Linked DNA regions of Homo sapiens. The protein of the gene in region 2 purifies or fractionates together with the protein of the main gene of each other region. This does not show direct contact. Each region holds a gene or a part of one and is shown on either strand. Other genes may lie near its edges.

Region 1 (7,024 bases), on a different chromosome or scaffold from region 2:
GACAGAGAAGTAGACTATGAGAAGGTGATCAGTATGGTCAGACACTTCAAATTTAATATTTGTGACAGCTAATAAAAATCCAAAAGACCTGGGTTATTTTCTTGACCTGTTCTTTGCCTGTGGTATTACCCCGAAGCTGGGATGGGGGTATTTGGGAGTGGGATGGACTAGCAGTCATGGAATGGAAAGATGATGGGGCATTTTACTTGTGATAAATATTTGTCATTCTTTAGGTTTTCTTTGTCACCTACTTCCATAAGAGTGTTTTATAATCACTGGTTTTTATACTCTGATGTTAGGCCATGAGACAGGCTGTTAACATTTTGACAAGAGATAACAACTTGACATTGACAGATCAAAGTCTTCAGCTTCTCAGATCCTTGGATTGTGCCCCAAGATGGTATTGGAGTGCTGCTGATGTGGCTGTGTTGCTTTAGTTCAGCCTGTTTATTCTTTGTTGTCCTAAGATTGCAAATGTTCAGTAGGTGATTGAGGGATTCAGTAGGTGATAGTGCCTGTGAGGTATGCCACCCTGGAGAGGGCTCTGTGATTTTGTGTTGAAATCGGAATTTGTTGTCATTGACATCTTTTTCTTTTAGGTGATGAAATTTATTGAGAAGGCCCAGAACATGTCCAAGTAAGTGATGTCAGTAACACCCATTTATTACTCTGTAGCTGACATATTTCTAGGCTTCATGGAGGATCTGGGATACCATCAGCCTCTGAAAGAATATAGATTGAGATGAAACCATTAGGAGTGAAAAAAAAATTGGCAAATCATTAAGATGCTTTAGAATATAGAGCTAAATTTAATATCATTTCATCCTCAATTACTTTGATCCCCAATTTACATGGCTTCTTAGGAGCTCTTTTGAGACTTTGTCCCAATTCAGTTGTCCACCTGCCTTCTCTTGGGAAACCATGCTTGTTGTCATTAAAGTATCTGAAATACCTTTCTAATTCTTATTTAAATGAATATAGTCTACATGGTTCAGAGAAAATTTTTTAATTTACAGAGTGTCAGAATAGGAAATATTTGTTCTTATGGCCATTACCCAGTTAGCTGTTGTTCAAGGTTTACTTTTTTTAAAAAAGATAATTTATTGTTTTATAAAAATTCAAACCATGCATGATATTTATAAGATGAAACCATCACCCCGATTCCCACTAGAAGTAACATCATCATTCAGCGACTAGCATTCCACATTTCTATATACACAGATAGAAGGATGAATGGATAAAAGTGCTTTTACAAAAATGGGGTACTAGAGGTAGCTTTTGTTTTGTTTTGAGACAGGGTCTTGCTCTGTCGCCCAGGCTGGAGTACAGTGTAGTGATCTCAGCTCACTGTAACTTCCACCTCCCTGGCTCAGGTGATCCTCCCACCTCAGCCTCCCAAGTAGCTGGGACTACAGGTGTGAGCCACCACACCTGGCTAATTTTTGTATTTTTGTATTTTTGGGATGGAGTCTCGCTCTATTGCCTAGGCTGGAGTGCAGTGGTGTGATCTTGGCTCACTGCAATCTTTGCATCCCGGGTTCAAGCGATTCTCCTGCCTCAGCCTCCTGAGTAGCTGGGATTACAGGTGGCCTGCTACCATGCCTGACTAATTTTTGTATTTTTAGTAGAGATGGGGTTTCACCATGTTGGCCAGACTGGTCTCAAACTCCTAACCTCAAGTGATCTGCCCGGCTTAACCTCCCAAAGTGCTGGAACTATAGGTGTGAGCCACTGAGCCTGGCCTGGAGGTATTTTTTTTTTTTTAATGACAGCTTTATTAAGATATAATTCATATACCATAAAGTTCACTCGTTTAAAGTGTATGGTTGTTTTAGTCTGTCCACAGAGTCGTGTGTTGATAATTACTATCTTCAGAATATTTTTGTCATCCTGAAAAGAAACCCCATACTCATTACCAATCACTCCTTATTTTCTGTTCCCTTTAGCCCCTAGTGACTACCCCATTTTCCATTCCCATTGGCAATATGATTTCTCCACAACCAGTTCCTCCATAACCTTGCCAACTTTTGTTATTCTTCTTGTTTTTGATTATAGCCATTCTAGTGGATATAGAGTGGTATCTCATTGTGGTTTTTACTTTTATTTTCTTAATAACTAATGATATTGAACATCTTTTTAATGTACTTATTGGCCATTGGTATGTATATATTTAGAGAAATGTCTATTAGAATTCTTTGCCAATTAAAAAAATTCTGATATAATTCATAATTATATCAAATTAATTCACAAAAAAGTTGATATAGTTCATAAAAACAGCTTTATTGAGATAATTCACATACCATACAATTCACCCATTTAAGGTATACAATTCAGTGGCTTTTAGTATATTCACAGAATTGTACAACTATCACCACAGTCAATTTTAGAATATTTTCATCATCTCAAGAAGTAACCTGATATTCTTCAGCTAGCACTTTCCCATTCCTCCCATTCTTCTTCCTCTGTTCCACACTCACCCCCGCCCTAAGCAACCAGATGTTTCCCAAGAGATTTACATTCTGGTTTTGTGTCTTTCATTTTAAATGCATTGTGTTTCTATAAAAGTTTCCCCTGTGATCATTTGCAGCAACTCATGGTCTGCTGTTCCTGCCCATTGGCGTGAATATTGGTCATTGAACAAAGTCTAGGGGATCATCATGTGCAGTTTAGGGCCAGTAGGAGGAAGTTAGATTTGGCAGTGTGCAGAGGTTACTCCAGTCTTGGATAACCAGATGTTTATTGTCTTATATGATGGAATATCCTTCAGCATAACACAAATGTAACACTTCTTTAATGATCTTTCTTGACATAGATATGTGTTGATTGACACACCTGGACAGATTGAGGTATTCACCTGGTCAGCTTCTGGGACAATTATCACTGAAGCCCTTGTGAGTATTCTAGGACTTGCTACTGAGAGTAGCTAGAGGGGCTAGACTGGATGAGCATTTATTTTTAATTGCCTTGGACTTTATATGGGAGGAAGTTGTAGAAGCTCTGCACACCCTGCCTAAAGTGGTTTTCCCTTGTTAAGGATGGTGGAAAAAGAGTTTGAGGACAGATCGTGAGCCCTCTGACCAAGGCTTTGATTTTTTTGTGGCTTTAGGCATCCTCATTTCCAACAGTTGTCATCTATGTAATGGACACATCGAGAAGTACCAACCCAGTGACCTTCATGTCCAACATGCTCTATGCCTGCAGGTAATTGATTGTTGGTGGGGAAAGTGTTCCATCAAGGTATAAGGCCTTTTTCTCTTCTTCTTCCTCTTTTTTTTTTTTTTTTGAATCTGGTTGCTTACCCCTGGATTTGTGCTCATTCAGATTTGCTGTTCAGTTGAGTGGCTGTGAGCTGGGGAAGGTCAGAGGAGAAAAGAGGCACATGTGCTGTTGGCATTCTCTCTCAATACCCTCTGATCTTCCTCCCTTGTTGTTACAAAAAGGTGATGTATGAATATGAACTGTCTGATAGTTGTTCCCAGTTGGATAAAATCCAAGTTTAAAGATAAAGTCCTCTGGGCTGGGTCTGTCATCCCTACACTTGGGAGGCCAAGGTGGGAGGATCGTTTGAGCTTGGGAGTTTGAAACCAGGCTGGGGAACATAGCAAGACTCTGTCTCTACAAAAAATGTTTTAAAATTAGCCAGCGTGGTGGCACGCCCTTGTAGTCCCAGCTACTTGGGAGGCTGACGTGGGAGGATTGCTTGAGCTCAGGTGGTTGAGGCTGTAGTGAGCCATGATTGTGCCACTGCACTCCGGCTTGGGGCAACAAGAGCCTGGGGCAACGAGAGAGAGAGAGAAGAATAGAGTCCTCTGGCCTAAATGATGCTGGTAGAGTGAAATTGTAACATGAGGAGATACCATGAATAAGAAGATTTATCCATAATTGTAAAATGCACAGGTGGCCAGGCATGGTGGCTCATGCCTATAATCCCAGCACTTGGGGAGGCTGTGGTGGGAGGATCGCCTGAGCCCAGGAGTTTGAGACCAGCCTGGGCACCATGGTGAAACCCCATCTCTACAAAATATACAAAAAATTAGCCAGGGATGGTGGTGTGTGCCTGTAATCCCCGCTACCTGGGAGGCAGAGGTGGAAGGATTGCTTGAGCCTGGGAGGCCAAGGTTGGAGTGAGCTGTGATGATGTCACTGTACTCCAGGCTGGGCAACAGAGTGAGACCCTGTCTCAAAAAAATAAAATGCACTGGTTTGCCCCAAATGTGGCACCATTAGCAGAGGAAGGGCATGCCTCACTAGATTAGTGCATTAAGACTGAGGAGCAAGGCTGACAGTTATTAAAGCTGAGAGAATTTAATTTTGAGGGTACACAAATGCCATCACCAACATTTGTCTTTTCTGATATGACAAGGGATGTCCCTTTTTGGTGGATGCAAGAAATTGTGATCCAAATAGAAATCTGAAGATTGACAGCATTATTTCATTTTCATATTAATTATTTATTTATTTATTTATTTATATTTTTTCGAGACGGAGTCTTGCTCTGTCACCCAGGCTGGAGTACAGTGGCACAATCTCACCGTACTGCAATTTCCGCCTACTGGGTTCAGGTGATTCTCCTGCCTCAGCTTCCTGAGTAGTCACCACACTTGGCTAATTTTGTATTTTTAGTAGAGTCGGGGTTTCACCTTGTTGGCCAGGCTGGTCTCAAACTCCTGACCTCAAGTGATCTGCCCGCCTTGGCCTCCCAAAGTGCTGGGAATACAGGCATGAGCCACTGTGCCTGGCCCATTTTCATATTAATTGTTTAAAAGAAAATTATTTGATTTGCCTGATAGTGTTAATCATTTCTTTTTAAAAAAATTAATTAATTTATTTTTAGAGGTGGGGTCTCGCCATGCTGCCCAGGCTGGTTTTGAACTCGTGGGCTCAGGCAGTCCTCCCAGCGTGGCCTCCCAAAGTGCTCAGATTACAGGCATGAGTCACACCCCCAGCTGGTAATCATTTCATGATGAAACATACAGTTGATCCTTGAACAATTTGGGGGTTAGAGGCGCCAACCCCTGCAGAGACCAGCCGGGGCACCATGGTGAAACCCCATCTCTACAAAATATAAAACTTTGACTCCCCCCAAACTTAATTACTAAAGGCCTACTGTTGATTGGAAACCTTGCTGGTAACATAAACAGTAGATTAACACACATTACATATATATTATATGTATTATATGCTGTATTCATATAATAAAGCTAGAGAAAATAAGGGGAAGATATATTAACTGTTCATTAAGTGAAGTAGATCGTCATAAAACTCTTCATCCTAATCGTCTTCACTTTGAGTAGTCTAAGAGTAGGGGTTGGGTTTTGCTGTCTCTGGGTGGCAGAGGTGGAAGAAAAGGTGCATATGAGTAAACCTTGCAGTTCAAACCTATGTTGTTTAAGGGTCAACTGTGTATCAAAATATCCCTTTGTACACCTTAAATATATATAATTTTTATTTGTCAACTATACCTCAATAAAGGTAGGGGTAGAAACATTTTTAAGATGTTACTTTACAGATTGAAAAAAATTTTAATATTCTTTTCCCAGCCTTATTGAGGTATAATTGACAAATAAAAATTGTATATATTTACATGTTATTTGTAAAGAATAAAGGAGATAATACTTATGAAAGTGCTTATTAGCACAGTGCCTAGACTATACAGATTGAGCATCCCTTATCCAAAAATTTGAAATCTGAAATGCTCCAAAATGTGAGACATTCTAGACACTGACATGACACTCAGAGGAAATGGTTATTGGAGGATTTTGGATTTTCAGATTTGGGATGCTCAACCAATAAGTATTTACAAATATTCCAAAATCTGAAATAAAAAACACTTCTGGTCCCAAGTATTTTAGATAGGAAATTCTCAACCTGTAATAGGTATTCAGTAAATGTTCATTTCCTTCTCTGAAAAATACCAATTTGGTTAAAAAACAAAACAAAAACAAGTTCAATATTAAGGCATTATTACTTCAAACAAGAGTGAGAGTGTGTGTGTTGCTTCTGGGTGGTAGTTGTTTTCCTGTTGGCAGAGACTATATGATGTTATGTAAAAATGGATGACTACTTTTTAGATTCTGAACTCATTTCTGTTCTCTTACTTAGTCCCGACATGCTGACACTGGATGAGCAAGAGCTTATGTGCTTTTACTAATAACTTCTCAATGTTTGGTTTTCAGCATCTTATACAAAACCAAGCTGCCTTTCATTGTGGTCATGAATAAAGTAAGTGTATTCTTCCTGTTGTGATTCACCATTTTTCATCAGAACCTTGTGGTTAGAAGGTTTAGGTGGGTGAGAAAGATTATTTCAGATGCTGGAGACCAGATTCAGGCTTTACTGAAACAAATTCATAGGCACTTCGAGAAAATGAATCAATCAAATTGAATGAGCAATTATTACCAACTCTTGTCTAAAATTATTTTAGGCTAGGTAGAGTAGCACTTCAACCACAGTATGTAGATTATCCCTCAGAGTCAAGATTGTGTAATTACGAGAGGGACAACTAGTCTACTGGAAGTGGCAATTAAAAAATTCTAAACTTCTCTGTTGGTTGATGGCTAGGATGCAAGAGACCTTTTGACTTCAGAGCCTAGAATGTGCTGGTGTCCATTCTGGTCCTGGTACTTGGCAGTGGATAGTGGAGGGTCAACCAAGAGAATACACATCTTCATTTAATTACACTGACTACACAATGATTGTGGTTCTTTGTGGCTTGTTGCAATGGAGGGGAAATAGAAGCAGAGAAAGAAAATATATGGATGATATGTTCTTTGCTGTCAACACTTAATTAAAAGAATAAATTTTGCGTTTGTTGGCTCTGGTTGCTCATAATTGACTTCTCTCTGGTACAGACTGACATCATTGACCACAGCTTTGCAGTGGAATGGATGCAGGATTTTGAGGCTTTCCAAGATGCCTTGAATCAAGAGACTACATACGTCAGTAACCTGACTCGTTCAATGAGCCTGGTGTTAGATGAGTTTTACAGCTCACTCAGGGTAAATTTTCTCTCCTGCTCACACTG
Region 2 (7,890 bases):
GCAGTGGCACGATCTTGGCTCACTGGAAGCTCCGCCTCCCGGGTTCACGCCATTCTCCTGCCTCAGCCTCCTGAGTAGCTGGGACTACAGGCGCCGGCCACCACGCCCAGCTAATTTTTTGTATTATTAGTAGAGACGGGGTTTCACTGTGTTAGCCAGGATGGTCTCGATCTCCTGACCTCATGATCCACCCGCCTCTGCCTCCCAAAGTGCTGGGATTACAGGCATGCGCCACCACACCCGGCTAATTTTGTATTTCTAGTAGAGACAAGGTTTCTCCATGTTGGTCAGGCTGGTCTCGAACTCCCAACCTCGGGTGATCCGCCCGTCTCGGCCTCCCAAAGTGTTGGGATTACAGGCGTCAGCCACCGCCCCCGGCATATATATATATATATATATATATATATATATATATATATATATATATGTATTTTTTTAAAATAGAGATGGAAAAATAACTATTTACCAAAATCAATAAATATGTCGTGAGAATAATGGCATTGTTTTACAGGGGGGTTGGGGGGAGACACTGTTTTTCTCTCCTCTCACACCACCACAACAATCAACAAAGAAGGCTACTGTGTGACCAAATGTGTTGGTTTTTTCCCCAGTCCACAAGCAAGCAGTTCCAGCTGGGTGTCCTCTTGTTTAATGCCAACACTGTCTACCTGGAGATAACCTCAGATCTCAAATGTTTAGGGTGCAGATCTCAAGACCGCCCTCCCCACCGGCCCCCCGGTACTAGTTTCTTTTCTCTCCTTTTTTCTTTTATTTCTTTTCTTTTCCTTCCTTTTCTTTTCCTTTCTCCTTCCTTCCTTCCTTCCTTCCTTCCTTCCTTCCTTCCTTCCTTTCTTTCCTTTCTTTCTATTTCTTTCTTTGTCTCTTTATTTGTCTCTCTCTGTCTCTCTCTTTCTTTTCTCTCTCTCTTTTCCCCTTTTTCTTTTCTTCTTTCTCTCTCTTGTCTCTCTCTTTCCCCTGCCTCCCTCCCTCCCTCCCTTCCTTTTTTTTTTTTTTTAAATCAAATTATTGTTTACCAGACATGGCCCCTGACTTCTGATGCTAGTCAAAAGCCCCAGGCTGTTTTACCTATGCCTCTGACTGACCAGCTGTAAATCTAGGCCCCCACAACTCTACTTGGGCTTGGTTAACTTGCTAGGGTGGCTCATAGAAATCAGGGAAACACCTACTTACCTTTACTGGTTTATTATAGAGGCTATTTGAAAGGATGCAGATGAAGAGGTGCCTAGGGTGAGGTATGGGGGAAGGGATGTGGAGCTTCCGAGCCCTCTTCCGGTGTGCCACCTTCCAGGAACCTCCAGGTGTTCAGCTATGTGGAATCTCTGAACCCAGTCCTTTTGGATTTTTGTGGATGCTTCATTATGCAAGCATGACTGCTGAAACGATTGGCCATTGGTGATCAACTCAACAGTTCAGCACCCCCTCCACTCCCCAGAAGTTGGGGGTGGGCTGAAAACCCCAACCTTCCAATCATGCCCTGCTCTTTATGGTGACCAGCCCCCATCCGGAAGCTACCTAGGGCCTGCCAGCCATCAGTTAACATTAGCATACCAAAAAAATCACTTTAGAGATTTAGGAGTTGTATGGCAGAAAATAGGGTCAAAGAAACGTATATTTCACAATATCACACTGTTTCGATAGGAGACAGCTCGATTTTCACATCTGCTTCTATTAGCTATTAGGATATATTGTTTTGATTGAAATACATGAAGAAAATTTGGTCTCACACAGACATGTAACTAGAAGAGCACTTCACCAATCCCCTGAAAGGTTCTTTTGGGGACCACAACTTCAGAATTGCTGTTCTGAGCTTTCAGGCTCTACGTGCACACACTTTGAGGAGCAGACACAACAATCCTTGTCATTGCTTTGGTGTCTTTTTTATCCAAAGTTTCAGTCTCAGGCAGTAGAGTTTACAGTAGTGAAGAATGCGACTTTCCCAGGTGTGAGGGCTCACACTTGTTATCCCAACACTTTGGGAGACAAAAGCAAGAGGATCACTTGAGGCCAGAAGTTCAAGACTAGCCTGGTCAACAGAGTAAGACCCACATCTCTGCAAAAAATAAAAAATTACCCGCGCATGGTGACCCATACCTGTAGCTGGGGAATGCAATGAGCACTCCAGCCTGGCAGCCTGGGTGACAGAATGAGACCCTTTCTCAAGAAAAAAAAAAGGTGGGGCCGGGCGCAGTGGCTCAGGCCTGTAATCCCAGCATTTTGGGAGGCTGAGGCAGATGGATTACCTAAGGTCAGAAGTTCGAGACCAGCCTGGCCAACATGGTGAAACCTGGTCTCTACTAAAAATACAAAAAAAAAAAAAATTAGCTGGGCGTGGTGGTGGGCGCCTGTAATCCCAGCTACTTGGGAGGCTGAGGCAGGAGAATCACTTGAATCTGGGAGGCGGAGGTTGCAGCGAGCCGAGATTGCACCACTAAGTTCCAGCCTAGGCGACAGAGTGAGACTCCAACTCAAAAAAAAAAAGAAAGAAAGAAAAAAGAAAAAAAAAAGGAACACAAGCTTTGGAGCAGGTCAGCTATTCATACCCAAATACCTCCCCTTAATCTTTTTCTGGCTTATGTATAAGGTAGGAATAATAATAGTATCAGTGTCAACCTAAAATAATCCGACGGGTCAGAACCTAATTTAGAGTTTTTTCAAGTGCGAAGTATGAGAATGGAACACCTGGAACCACCAACTCCAGAAGAATGGAGTCAGTGTTGTGAAGTAAGAAAGTTAAGATTTCATTTATATAGGCAAGCACACATGACTTTTTAGCAGGATTACATTTTTCACAGAAGATTGGTACATAGTTATAGCAATTTGGTTGGCTATAGACAATGTTTCTTTTTGGGAAGTATACATGTAACTTTTTTTTTCCAATTTTTTTTTATTTGGAGTTTCGCACTGTTGCCTGGGCTGGAGTGCAGTGTCAAGATCTTGCCTAACTGCAACCTCCGCCTCCCGGGTTCAAGACATTCTTCTGCCTCAGCCTCTGGAGTAGCTGGGATTACAGGCACCTGCCACCACACACGGCTAATTTTTTGTATTTTTAGTAGAGATGGGTTTTCACTATTTTGGCCAGGCTGGTCTTGAACTTCTGATCTCGTGATTTGCATGTAACTTTTTTTTTTTTTTTTTTTTTTTTTTTTTTTTTTTTTGAGAGGGAGTCAGCCGGGCGCGGTGGCTCACGCCTGTAATCCCAGCACTTTGGGAGGCCGAGGTGGGCGGATCACCTGAGGTCGGGAGTTCGAGACCAGCCTGACCAACATGGAGAAACCCCGTCTCTATTAAAAAAAAAAAAAGAGAGAGGGAGTCTTGCTCTGCATCCCAGGCTGAAGTGCAGTGGAGCGATCTCGGCTCTTTGCAATCTCAGCTTCCCGGGTTCAAGCAATTGTCCTGCCCCAGCCTCCCCAGTAGCCGAGTAGCCGGGATTACAGGCATGAGCCACCAGTGCCCGGCGCATGTAACATTTTTTAACAGAGGATGAAATAGTCATGGATTTCCTACACTTCAGCCTGGGCGACACAGCAAGACTCCGTCTCAAAAAAAAAAAAAAAAAAAAAAAGAGTTAATCTATAATCTGAGAACAGAAGTTGTAAACTATATGTGACTCGCAGTCATATCTCTCTCGAGGCTTAAAGTGTTTTTTGGGCTTCCAATAGCTCTTAAATTTTTTTTTTTTTTTGAGACTCCGTCTTGCTTTGTCGCCAGGCTGGAGTGCAGTGGCGCGATCTCAACTCACTGCACCCTCCGCCTCCCGGGTTCAAGCGATTCTCCTGCCTCAGCCTCCTGAGTAGCTGGGACTACAGACGCCTGCCACCACGCCCGGCCAATTTTTTGTATTTTTAGTAGAGACGGGGTTTCGCCATGTTAGCCAGGATGGTCTCAATCTCCTGACCTCATGATCTGCCCGCCTCGGCCTCTCAAAGTGCTGGTATTACAGGCGTAAACCACAGCGCCCGGCCTAAATTTCATTATTTTCTGTAGCTTCTTGGCCTTTTGGCTAAGGCTCGTAAACATTTTTTTTTTATTTCTACACCAATTTCTGTAGATTATTATGAGAATTAAGGGAGAGAATTATATCAAGCGCTTAGCACAGTGTCTGGCATCTAGGAAGAAAGTAGTAAGTGATAGCATTTATTTATTTATTTATTTTATTTATTGAGATGGAGTTTCGCTCTTGTTGCCCAGGCATCTAGGAAGAAAGCAGTAAGTGGTAGCATTTATCAATCTATCTATCTATCTATCTATCTATCTATTATCTATCTATCTATCTATCTATCTATCTATCTATCTATCTATCTATCTATCTGTTGAGATGGAGTTTCGCTCTTGTTGCCCAGGCTGGAGTTCAGTGGCAAGATCTCGGGCCGCCTCCCAGGTTCAAGCAATTCAGATAGTTGCCGACCGGGCGCGGTGGCTCACTCCTGTAATCCCAACACTTTGGGAGGCCGAGGTGGGTGGATCACCTGAGGTTGGGAGTTTGAGACCAGCCTGACCAACATGGAGAAACCCCATCTCTACTAAAAATACAAAATTAGTCAGGTGTGGTGGCACATGCCTTTAATCCCAGCTACTCGGGAGGATGAGGCAGGAGAATCGCTTGAACCCGGGAGGCGGAGGTTGCAGTGAGCCGAGATCGCGCCACTGCACTCCAGCCTGGGCAACAGAGGGAGACTCCGCCTCAAAAAAAAAAGTTGTCGTTTGATGGCTGGGGGGCGGGGGTGAGGGGCGGGGCTTAGTGGTTCTCGCCCACGACGGCGAGGCCCAATCAGACCCGCGGAGCTGGTGGAGTTCCGCCCTCGCGGAGGAGGTGGTGTTCCGCCCTCCTAGTCGCAGCAAGCGCGGAACTGGGGTTGCGGCGTCTAAGTGTTTCCGGTGGATTCCCAGGGACTGTCGGAGGTGTGGACTCTGCCTGCCTACCTGGTCTGGGAAGATGTTCTACCATGTGAGCAGGGCTCAGGGTGGCGGCAAGGGCTGGGTGGAAAGGAAGAGCAAGGCCAGGCGCCGGCGCGAGACTCCCCTTGTCGTCCAATAACCTGCCAGCGCCTGGCCTGGTCGCCATCCCACTTTTCTCCGCAGATCTCCCTAGAGCACGAAATCCTGCTGCACCCGCGCTACTTCGGCCCCAACTTGCTCAACACGGTGAAGCAGAAGCTCTTCACCGAGGTGGAGGGGACCTGCACAGGGAAGTGAGTGTCGAGCTCACCGCACCGCCAGATCGTTCGATGCGCACACGGGGCGCTATACCTGCAACCCCTCCCCAACTCCTACTCGTCCTGCCACCCACTCTGGGGACCCCTCTCCTCTCTCAGGCAGCCAGTTGCTTCCTGCTTTGGGTTCCCAGGGCGCCCTCTGCAATGCTGGACAATAAGACTTCCTTCTCTCAGCTGAGATGGGTCATTCATTGACTCCTCAAACATTTTAAAAACCCTTGGTGTGTGCCAGGACCCGTGTTGGGCTCAGAACAAGGTAGAATGGGAACAAGATAGAATGAGGACAGCCCCTGTGGAGCTCACAGTGTAATCATTGTTCCTGTGTCTGCTCTCCCTCTGTCATTCTGCTGGTTTTCTCTTATCCCCTGTGCCCAGGGACCACACACCATGGGCCTCTATATATCTTCTGAATGAATGACCAGAAAAAGCAGATCGAGAGTTTGGGGGAGGAAGGAAGTAGCCTGGGATTTGACCATCTCTGGGCTTTGCACAGAGGGGCCTCTCTGATATTAATGAGCTGGGACCCAGCTCAGGGCAGTGGAGTACTTGGGCCTCCAGCATCAGAAAAACCTGCAGGAACATGCAGATTCCTGAGCCTCCTTATTCCCTACAGAATCAAGACTGTCTGGGGCAGACCTGAGAATCTGCATTTTAAGAAGATGATTCTCAGGCATCCCGAAGATTGAGATCTGTTGCCTCAAGGACTCCAGCCTTCTTGGACATTTATTGTGAAATTACCAGAACAGCATTTGGTCTTACACATACTGATCTCTGTTCTGTCTTCTTTTGGTCATTAAGCTCTCTGGGAGCAGAGGTGCTATCTACTTGTCCTTTTGCTCTCCCCGACCCTACCCCCAAGAGCTCAGCGACTTTTATTGCAGATGTCTTTAGAGGCTCTTGGACACACAGTGTCTTCCTGTTTCTCATCCTCCTTGCAGGTATGGCTTTGTAATTGCTGTCACCACCATTGACAATATTGGTGCTGGTGTGATCCAGCCAGGCCGAGGCTTTGTCCTTTATCCAGTTAAGTACAAGGCCATTGTTTTCCGGCCATTTAAAGGGGAGGTCGTGGATGCTGTTGTCACTCAGGTCAACAAGGTGAGACCATACATAGGGGAGGCAGTGGGGTAGTCTCTCGGAAGATCTGGGTTGGGTTCTGGCTCCACTTCATAACTCTGTGCCTTTGGCTAAGTCACTTCACTTTTTTTTTTTTTTTTTTTTTTTGAGAGAGTTTTGCTCTGTTGCCCAGGCTGGAGTGCAGTGGTGCGATCTTGGCCACTGCCACCTCTGCCTCCTAGGTTCAAGTGATTCTCCTGCCTCGGCCTCCCAAGTAGTTGGGACTAAAGGCACGTGCCACCATGGCCGGCTATTTTTTTTTTTTTTTGAGACGGAGTCTCGCTTTGTCACCCAGGCTGGTGTGCAGTGGCGAGATCTCCACTCACTGCAAGCTCCGCCTCCCGGGTTCACACCATTCTCCTGCCTCAGCCTCCCAAGTAGCTGGGTCTACAGGTGCCCACCACCACGCCCGGCTAATTTTTTGTATTTTTAGTACAGACGGGGTTTCACTGTGTTAGCCAGGATGGTCTCGATCTCCTGACCTCGTGATCCACCCGCCTCGGCCTCCCAAAGTGCTGGGATTGCAGGCTTGAGCCACCGCGCCCGGCCTGCACTTTCAAATTATATGGTAATCTTGCCCTGCCTAACTCAGAGGGCAAGAGAGTCAGTATTAATAGTCATAACAATAAAAGCCTGTGTTGATTGAGTAGTTACTATGGGCTAGGTGATGTGCAGAGACTCACAATGACTCTAAAAGGTGGGTTTTTTTTTTTTTTTGAGACGGAGTCTAGCTCTGTTGCCAGGCTGGAGTGCAGTGGCGCAATCTCGGCTCGCTGCAACCTCCGCCTCTGGGTTCAAGCGATTCCCCTGCCTCAGCCTCCCAACTAGCTGGGACTATAGGCATGCGCCACCATGCCCAGCTAATTTTTGTATTTTTAGTAGAGATGGGGTTTCTCCATGTTGGTCAGGCTGGTCTCGAACTCCCGACCTCAGGTGATCTGCCTGGCTCAGCCACCCAAAGTGCTGGGATTATAGGCGTGAGCCACCGTGCCCGGCCAGTGGGTGCTTTTTACAGAAGCTGAAGCTTGGAAGAAATTAAGTGTACTGGCCAAGATCATGTGGCCAACAGGTGTTCAAATCTTGGACTAACACGTCCCAGGCCTAAGCTCTTTAATACTTTAAAATGAAAGCTTAGGCTGGGCGCGGTGACTCACATCTGTAATCCCAGCACTTTGGGAGGCTGAGGTGGGCAGATCACCTGAGGGTGGGAGTTCAAGACCAGCCTGGCCAATATGGTGAAACCCCATCTCTACTAAAAATACAAAAATTAGCCAGGCATTGTGGCATGTGCGTGTAGTCCCTGCTACTCGGGAGGCTGAGGCATGAGAATCACTTGAACCTGGGAGGTGGAGGTTGCAGTGAGCTGAGATTGCATCACTGCACTCCAGAGTGGAGAACAGAGTGAGATTCTGTCTCAAAGTAAATATGTAAATAAATACAAATGAAAGCTTAAAAAAAAAGAGAAAAGGGCTGGGTGCGCTGGCTCACACCTATAATCCCAGTGCTTTGGGGGGCAGAAGTGGGAAGATTGCTTGAGCCT
Region 3 (7,024 bases), on a different chromosome or scaffold from region 2:
CAATTCAGTAATAAAGTAAATCCTCTACTCTCCTTTTGAAAAGGCTACTAACAGTTTTTCAGAGCAGTTGGAGCTTTTCTTTTCGTCGTGCACCCTTTCAGCCCAGGGTGTTGAAAATCTCTCCGAAGCGCAGTGTGTGCATGATTGTTCCAGCTTACTCTCACTGCATTGTGGGTAAAGTGAAGGACTGTGTCTTACTCTCGCACAGCAGTCATAGTGAGCAGTCTCCTCAGCAGGTGATTCGGTTCCCATCTGCCTGGGACACTCGTTCTGTGGAGGTATGAGCTTTATCTTCCTGTGCAGCACGCAAGCTTCTTGGGGATGTTTCCTGTCTTGTCTTCTCCCTCTAGAGCAGAAGCATTAGGCACACTTTCTACCTGCTGCTTAAACTGACTGAACCCTAGCATCCATCTTGGACCTGTGCCTGAGGAGCTACATTTGAGCCCCATTTTACCAAGAAGCCTTTGTGACCACTTTATGCCCAAGAGTTCAGTCGTGGAATATTCTAATGCAGAACTTTGGAGAGTGGAAGAATCACAGGTGGCTTGAGATGCTACTCAGTAGAACTGTGAGGAACACAGATGTTAAGTGATGATTAACAAACTTAGCTTTTAGAGGAAAGGTCCGACGAATAGTAGACGGTGTACTGCATCCTCATGGCAAGTAAAATAACCGCACAGGGCAGGGCTTGCTAGCTGCAGGTGAATGCCCTGTGTTCAGACCAGGGAGAGGCCTGAGAAGGTCCCGCAGCAAAGAGGGACTTGAACTAGCCCTGGCCGCGTGTGTCAGTGCCTCCAGCTGCCAGGCTCTGAGCGGGAAACGTCCTTGGGAGCTGCTTTCTTTTTCACAGCTCTTCAGGCAACAGAGACCAAGGGAGAGGTGACCGAGGCACTCTGCAGAGAGACACAGCAAGAAAGATCATTTTCCCACCTAAGAATTGGAAGGTTGGATGTTGCTTACCTTGGTTTGCCTGCAGATTTCTTGTCCACAGGGTGGGATTGGGAACTGGTGTATGCACCCCATAAAGCTCCTTCCAGATCTAAGTTCAGATCCTAGAAGGGACAGCAGAGACTAATGTCAATTGTTCTAGAAGGGGTTTTTTTTTTTTAATATATCTTTGCAAGGTACATTGTGTGAAGTTTCTCAACTAACAAAATTCTAAACCAAGGTGTATGCTTTGTTAGTTTGTGTGGCACCCTGTCAGAGAGTTCTGCTTCTCCCCAACAGCCTTGTGAGTGGGGGAGCCAGTCTCCCCTTTTGCAGGTGCAGAAGCCAGCAGCATCAGGTAATAGGTGCTGCTCAGTGGGTGTCTCCAGGGGCAAGCAGAGGATAAAATGCTTTTGTTTCTTACTGACTTAATGGGAGGTGGTGGAACCAAAGTTAGGGACTTACCCAGAGTCATTAAGTGACAGTCCTTAGAGTCCTTTCAACTCTGAACACCACCACGCTGCCTTGAAAGTTGGAGAGATGGCTCCGGAAGAGGCACGAGGGGGCAGCATTTTTGAGCTGGTAAGAAAACGTGTGAGGATCCTGTAACGTCCCCTACAAGTGTATGTGAGATTACAGATTGGGGCTGGATTTACCTATGTTACATCTAACAGGGTGGTGATATGACATAGCCTGTCCCGTGAACATCTTAAGGTCTCTGTCACAGACAGAAACCTGGGCCAGACCACGGTGTGGCAACTAGCAACCGATGTGGAACTTTTCATGAATCTGTGTGACCAGTTTGCTCTCTACTTCAACATTACAGCACTTTTGATATTAACTTAAAATGCCATTTATTCTGCAGAAAAGCAGAATGGTGTAAATTGCAAAATGAAGGACTCTTGATTCTGACCCTATCCAAAATAGTAGAGGACCCTAAACCCAAACATGTAAATGCCACCTGATCCACAATTGCCCAGATTCAGGGACTCTCCTGTCTTTACTCTGTATATTGTGGCCAGGACACAGGAGAGGAGCAGCGTGGTGTTCTCTGACTTCGGGAAATGGAAAGGTAGCAAGTATCACCTGTGACACAGGTGTATGTCCTTGTCTTTGACTCATTCTGTCCCTCAGGAGAAAGTGGACTTTACAGTCTCTCCTCACTGAGGTTTCTGGGTGGTCCTCAGAATATGTTGTCCTGGTTGGAGGTCCCAGAGCCCTGGAGGACTGTCCAAGACCAGCATGTGGTCAGGGGCTTTGTTCTGGATACAGATGTAAAAAGGCACCATGGTCACGTCAGCCCCTGGGCAGCTGTGTAAGATAGGACATGTAGCTTAAGGGCGCCAAGGTCTCTTAGGTGAAGGAGGACACTTGGCTTTCCTTTTCTTGGTTTTGGGGTCTGCGAGCATCTTCTCAGATGGAGCTCTAGTTTAACCAGGCTGACTCCAGGTGACTCCAGTCCAGCGGGAGGGGTCCCCTGGCCACTTCCCCACTATCATCTCCTTCTGGAAACTGGGTGCTTTGTTACTGCACGTTGTGCTTTTCCTTTGTATTCCTAGTGGTAGGCTGTCCCACGTCTGCCTGGTTCCTTTGGGGACCAGGAGCTGGTTGTCAGAATGGGTGGCCAAGTTTGTGGCACAGTGAGTAAAGGAGAGGCAGCACATTTCATTCCAGTGTGGTCTCGCTAGCACCCATGCTTGGAGCACCTTCCAAAACAGCCGCTTTTCACTCTTAGAGCAGGGTGTGGATTTGCCATCGGGATTCCCTGAACCGGGAAGCATTTCCTGAGTAAGAAAGACATACCGATAATTCTACATGCTGTATTTAAAGGCCTTCTCTGAATACATTCCATGCCTTGGGAGGCACTGCAGTTACATTTCAGTCACTAACTGATTAGCAAGTGCTCGTGTGCTGGGTGTAGAGGGTACAGACCTGAAGATGCTCAGCCCCTGTGCCCAAGGGGCTTGGCGCCTCATAGGGAGGAGGGCAGATAGAGCATGGTCATGAACGAGCTTGGGTGGGGTGCCGTGGCATGTGGGCTCGGCAGTCAGGGATGGCCTGATGGTGCCGCAGGTCTCAAGTCCAAATGGAACAGTTCTCCCCGTGCCTTATTTGAAAACAGTTGAGAATTCTTAAGAATATGAGATGGCTTTCTTAAGTATATTCTATCATCCAGGTTTTCAGAATAAGTTCTGTAGTCAGGCAGGCAGGCTCTTCTTGCGTTGTCTCTGGCATGAGGGGAACAGAGCTGGAAGGAACAGTCGGCAAATTATTGCACAGTTTTCCCTCTCTGCTGTGGGATGGGGCACAGGCAGATGTCGAGCTGTGTCTGTGGGTATGGTTGGGGTGTCTGGGCTTGAGAAAATGGGAAGGGCCTTGGGGTAGCATTACATGGCACTGGTTTTCAGTATTTGGGGTGTTGTTGTACCCTCTGGATTAGATTTGCTCTGTGTGGCTTTTGGAGGCAAGCCTAGGGTGGGGAAGGTGAGAGTTCTGTGATGTGCTTAGGGAAGTGGTGGATTATTGTCAGAGCTGACTTAACACAGTCTGGGGGCACTGTGAGATGGCTATGTGGACATACCCAGGCCCTTGGATTCTGTGTATAGGCCTTTGGATTCTGTGACCATCCAAGTACCGGGAGGTTCTGCGATTCTCTGTGGAGCCTATTCAAAAGGAGAGGGGTCATGTCAGGTGAAGTACCAGCAGCCCTCTGGGAACTCACATCCCAAGGATTGCCAGGCAATTGGGGTTAAAGGCCTTTGGATGTTACTGTGACTGCAGCAAAGTTTCCTGGGTTCATCCACTGCAGGAAAATGAATCTTGGAAAACGTCAGGGGGCTCATCAGGTTTCCCCTGCATGCAGAGTTAGGCTCGGTCTCCTGTGTGCCAGCAGCAGTCTCTGTTGGGCAGCAGAGGCTGCAAGACGAACAGCCGCTGTTTACTGAGCACTTACACAGTGCCAGACACTACTGTGTGGAGTGTCTCATTGCTTCTTTGAATTACTTCTAGGGTAGGTGCTTCATCTTCATTTTAGGGGCTAGGAGAGATTCACCGATTTGTCTGGTATTGCAGACAAGGGAACCAGAAGCCTTGGGTCTGAATCCATCACTGGGTGGTTCTGATGTCAGAGGGCTTAACTACGACAGTCTTCCGCTTCCCACATCGGTGGTGCCCAGCATGGAAGCTGAACTCCATTGCGTCTTCCAAGGTGTACCCTTGCAAACATGAAGTGTTTTCACATGTTACATTTTGAATTCCATTCCTTCCCAGTTCCTACAACTTTTCCCCCTTTAAATTCCTCTAGCCTAGTGGCTCCAAACCTTTTTGAGTATGAGGGTTCATTTTTATCATCAGAAACCTTCTGGAAGCTTCACATAACAACAGGTGTGCTTTGAGTAACTGTTTTAAAGAAAATTCGAGGACAGAACCTACTCCTAATCCAGTCATGCTTCGAAATGAAGTTCTGTCTTGTCATCAAAACAGCATCAGTGTAACTCTGAGAGCAGGCCTTACCTGTATGTGTGTGACACCTGGAATTTGACCTTTGTGCTGCCTCCAGTTGGGAGCCTCCTGTCATCCCTACTGCCTCCCTTTTCTGAAACCTTACCTGGCTTAATCCAAGACCGTCTCCCTCAGGAACCATTCATCATTTTAACACCTTATATTCCTGCTGATAACAGGTCTTGTTGGTTACATTTTCCATGTGATTGTGAAGTGCCCAAGTAGGAGAGCAGGTGTTGCTCCCTTAGTGTCTAGAACTGCCACAGCACGTGGGTGCCCAAATGCTTGGTGCTCTCACTGTAAACAGGGCCAGTTTTGGGAATGGCTGTCAGCGTTACTGAGCAGGTCCTAGGTGCCAGCGGTTTTCAGCACTTCACCTGCATTCAAAACACATTTAATCTTCATAGCAGGTGTAGATTAAACAGGAGGCAGGTACTAGTGAGGAAACTGAGGCTCAGCGGACACAGCTGGAAGGAGGCTAGATGGGATGAGGCTGGGGTTGGAACACAGCCACCTGCTGGCTGCCTCCCTTGTCATGTGAGAGGCCAGTGGGCACTTGCTGCGCAGGCACTCCCCTTTCTTGCCTGGGTCCAGCTGTTTATGCTGGATTCATCTGTGCACTGCTCTTATGCCAGACTGGGAGGACAGTGGTCACTAAAATGCTCTGTGCTTTCTCTGGAACTGGCTGAAGAAGGGGTGTGAGGTGTGTTTTCCTCTCTTTCTCGTCAGGTATTTTTCACCCTAATAGAGAAGGCGGCGCTTGATCTTAGATTTCTGCCTGTCCATGGTCCCTAGACACTGTTCAAATGTCACTTCATCTGTGAAGCCTGGGTCCCCAGCGATCCTTCGGCCTTTTTTGGTCATGTGACAAAACATGGCATTCCTGGACACACATCCCCCCAGATTTTCATTTGCTATGGTGAGAAAGTAGGGTGCTGCTTTGTCCAGGCCACACCCTGGTGGTGGGTCAGCCTCGTGGCTGCTGTGGAGACTCGGGTATTCGTGTGCTGGGTGCACAGCATGGTTTTATAGGGCGTTGGCTGTGGCTGGCCTTGACTCTGGTGGGGGTTCTGTGGTGCAGGCATCAGCAGTGGGTGAGTTACTGGGAGGACTCAGGTGGGTGTGACCCATGGCCCACACCGAGAGCCCAGTGGGCTGGCAGCACTCCCAGGCCCTGGCAGCCCCACTGCCTGCTTGTGCCTTCAGCACGGTAGTGCACTCTTCTGTTTCCCACCCACACTCCTGGTCACATTGGCTCTCTGGGCAGCCCCCTGCACACACTGGGTTTAAGTTCTTATCCCCTTGATGACTTGTTTTGATGTCCCCCGTTCTAGTCATCAGGTTCCTGGCCCAGCTTGAGTTAGGCATGGAGAGGTGGCCACATCCTCGTTCCCCCCAGGGTGATGTAGTAGTTACCATGGTAGCTAACGGCTCTCCTGTTCTGCAGGCCAGCCCTCCAGAACCCTTTATAGATGCTGCCCAACTCCATTCACCTCCCAGGTGCATCTTGCATGGTGCCTAGGCAAGCAGTCAGCAAGCTGGCTTTTCAGTGCTGTCAGTGGGAGACCCGTGATACTGATGTGAAGGGATATAAAATAAGAACAGTTTTATCCTTTTGGGTGGTCATTGGTTCACATTGTTTCCTTCCGTGTTAATTGGTTGCCTGCACAGCACTTGTCTTTACTTCCTATACTAATTCTGTGGCCTGTCCAGCCCTAAAGGGAGGTTAGCACTGTGCTGGTGGCAGGAGCTTAGACACAAAGGGGCTGATGGTCATGCAGGCCCAAAGGCAAGTCTGCGGTCAGGTGAGGACCTGGTTTTTCTGTCTCCCTCTTTTGCAGTGTTGCCTTCACACAGTAGGGTGTCTTCCTCTCCATCCCAGCAGTTTCAGGATTTTCCCTCACCGAACTCCCGACTCTTTGCTGGAAGCCCCACCAAACGTTTCCTTATGCCTTCTCTGAGCTTTGATTGGATTAGCAGTTTGATTGAATTAGTTGATTGGCTTACCCCTGAATCTGCTGTGGGTTCCACCCAAACAGTCCCACAATAGAGGGGATGTTCCCAGGAGACATCAAGGTCCTGTTAACGGGAGAAGAATAGTGGATCCAGTGTCCATGGATGTGCACTGATGTCATCACCTCTCCTGATGTGACCGCCAAATAGTTGGGCCTTGGCTCCAGAAGGCAAAATGGGAGTTTTTGGGGAAAAAAATGGGAAATGTAAGGTCCAGAGTAGCAACAGGGTGGTTTGGCTGGTGTGAGGTCACCGCGTGGAGTTGTGAGTACCTTCTTGTTCTGGTTAAACCACAGACTCCATTTGCCTGTAGTCACCCTTGGGGACCTCGCTGTCACGCTGTCCGAGTGCAGGTGCTGGCCAGCTGCAGCTTCAGATCCTGTCCTGGGCTGGAGACAGTCTTGAATGGTGCTGTTTTTTCCTCCCTGTCTTGACAGTCTCTCCTGGTGCTTCAGTCACTGCCTGGAATGGAGCTCATTGCTGGGGGAGGTGGTGCGGTCCAGGTGGCCTGAACCCCACCAGGCCTCCTGTGGTCATGAGGAGACTGCGCTGTGACCCAGGCAAGAGCTGTGGCCCCTCCTGT

The links.
Region 1: the proteins of POLR2G (region 2) and GPN1 purify together in Homo sapiens (affinity purification with mass spectrometry; 6 studies listed by BioGRID and IntAct, with this or other methods). This does not show direct contact.
Region 3: the proteins of POLR2G (region 2) and MED26 purify together in Homo sapiens (affinity purification with mass spectrometry; 8 studies listed by BioGRID and IntAct, with this or other methods). This does not show direct contact.

Annotation. Positions count from the first base shown.
Region 1 is NC_000002.12:27,632,034-27,639,057, forward strand, and holds part of GPN1 (GPN-loop GTPase 1), read left to right. Parts: intron 1-599; coding exon 600-637; intron 638-2,812; coding exon 2,813-2,891; intron 2,892-3,106; coding exon 3,107-3,201; intron 3,202-6,176; coding exon 6,177-6,222; intron 6,223-6,851; coding exon 6,852-6,998; intron 6,999-7,024. UniProt on the Homo sapiens protein: Small GTPase required for proper nuclear import of RNA polymerase II (RNAPII). May act at an RNAP assembly step prior to nuclear import.
Region 2 is NC_000011.10:62,756,695-62,764,584, forward strand, and holds the start of POLR2G (DNA-directed RNA polymerase II subunit RPB7), read left to right. Parts: upstream 1-4,885; 5' UTR 4,886-4,954; coding exon 4,955-4,966; intron 4,967-5,100; coding exon 5,101-5,210; intron 5,211-6,172; coding exon 6,173-6,332; intron 6,333-7,890. UniProt on the Homo sapiens protein: Core component of RNA polymerase II (Pol II), a DNA-dependent RNA polymerase which synthesizes mRNA precursors and many functional non-coding RNAs using the four ribonucleoside triphosphates as substrates.
Region 3 is NC_000019.10:16,618,197-16,625,220, reverse strand, and holds part of MED26 (mediator of RNA polymerase II transcription subunit 26), read left to right. Parts: intron 1-7,024. UniProt on the Homo sapiens protein: Component of the Mediator complex, a coactivator involved in the regulated transcription of nearly all RNA polymerase II-dependent genes.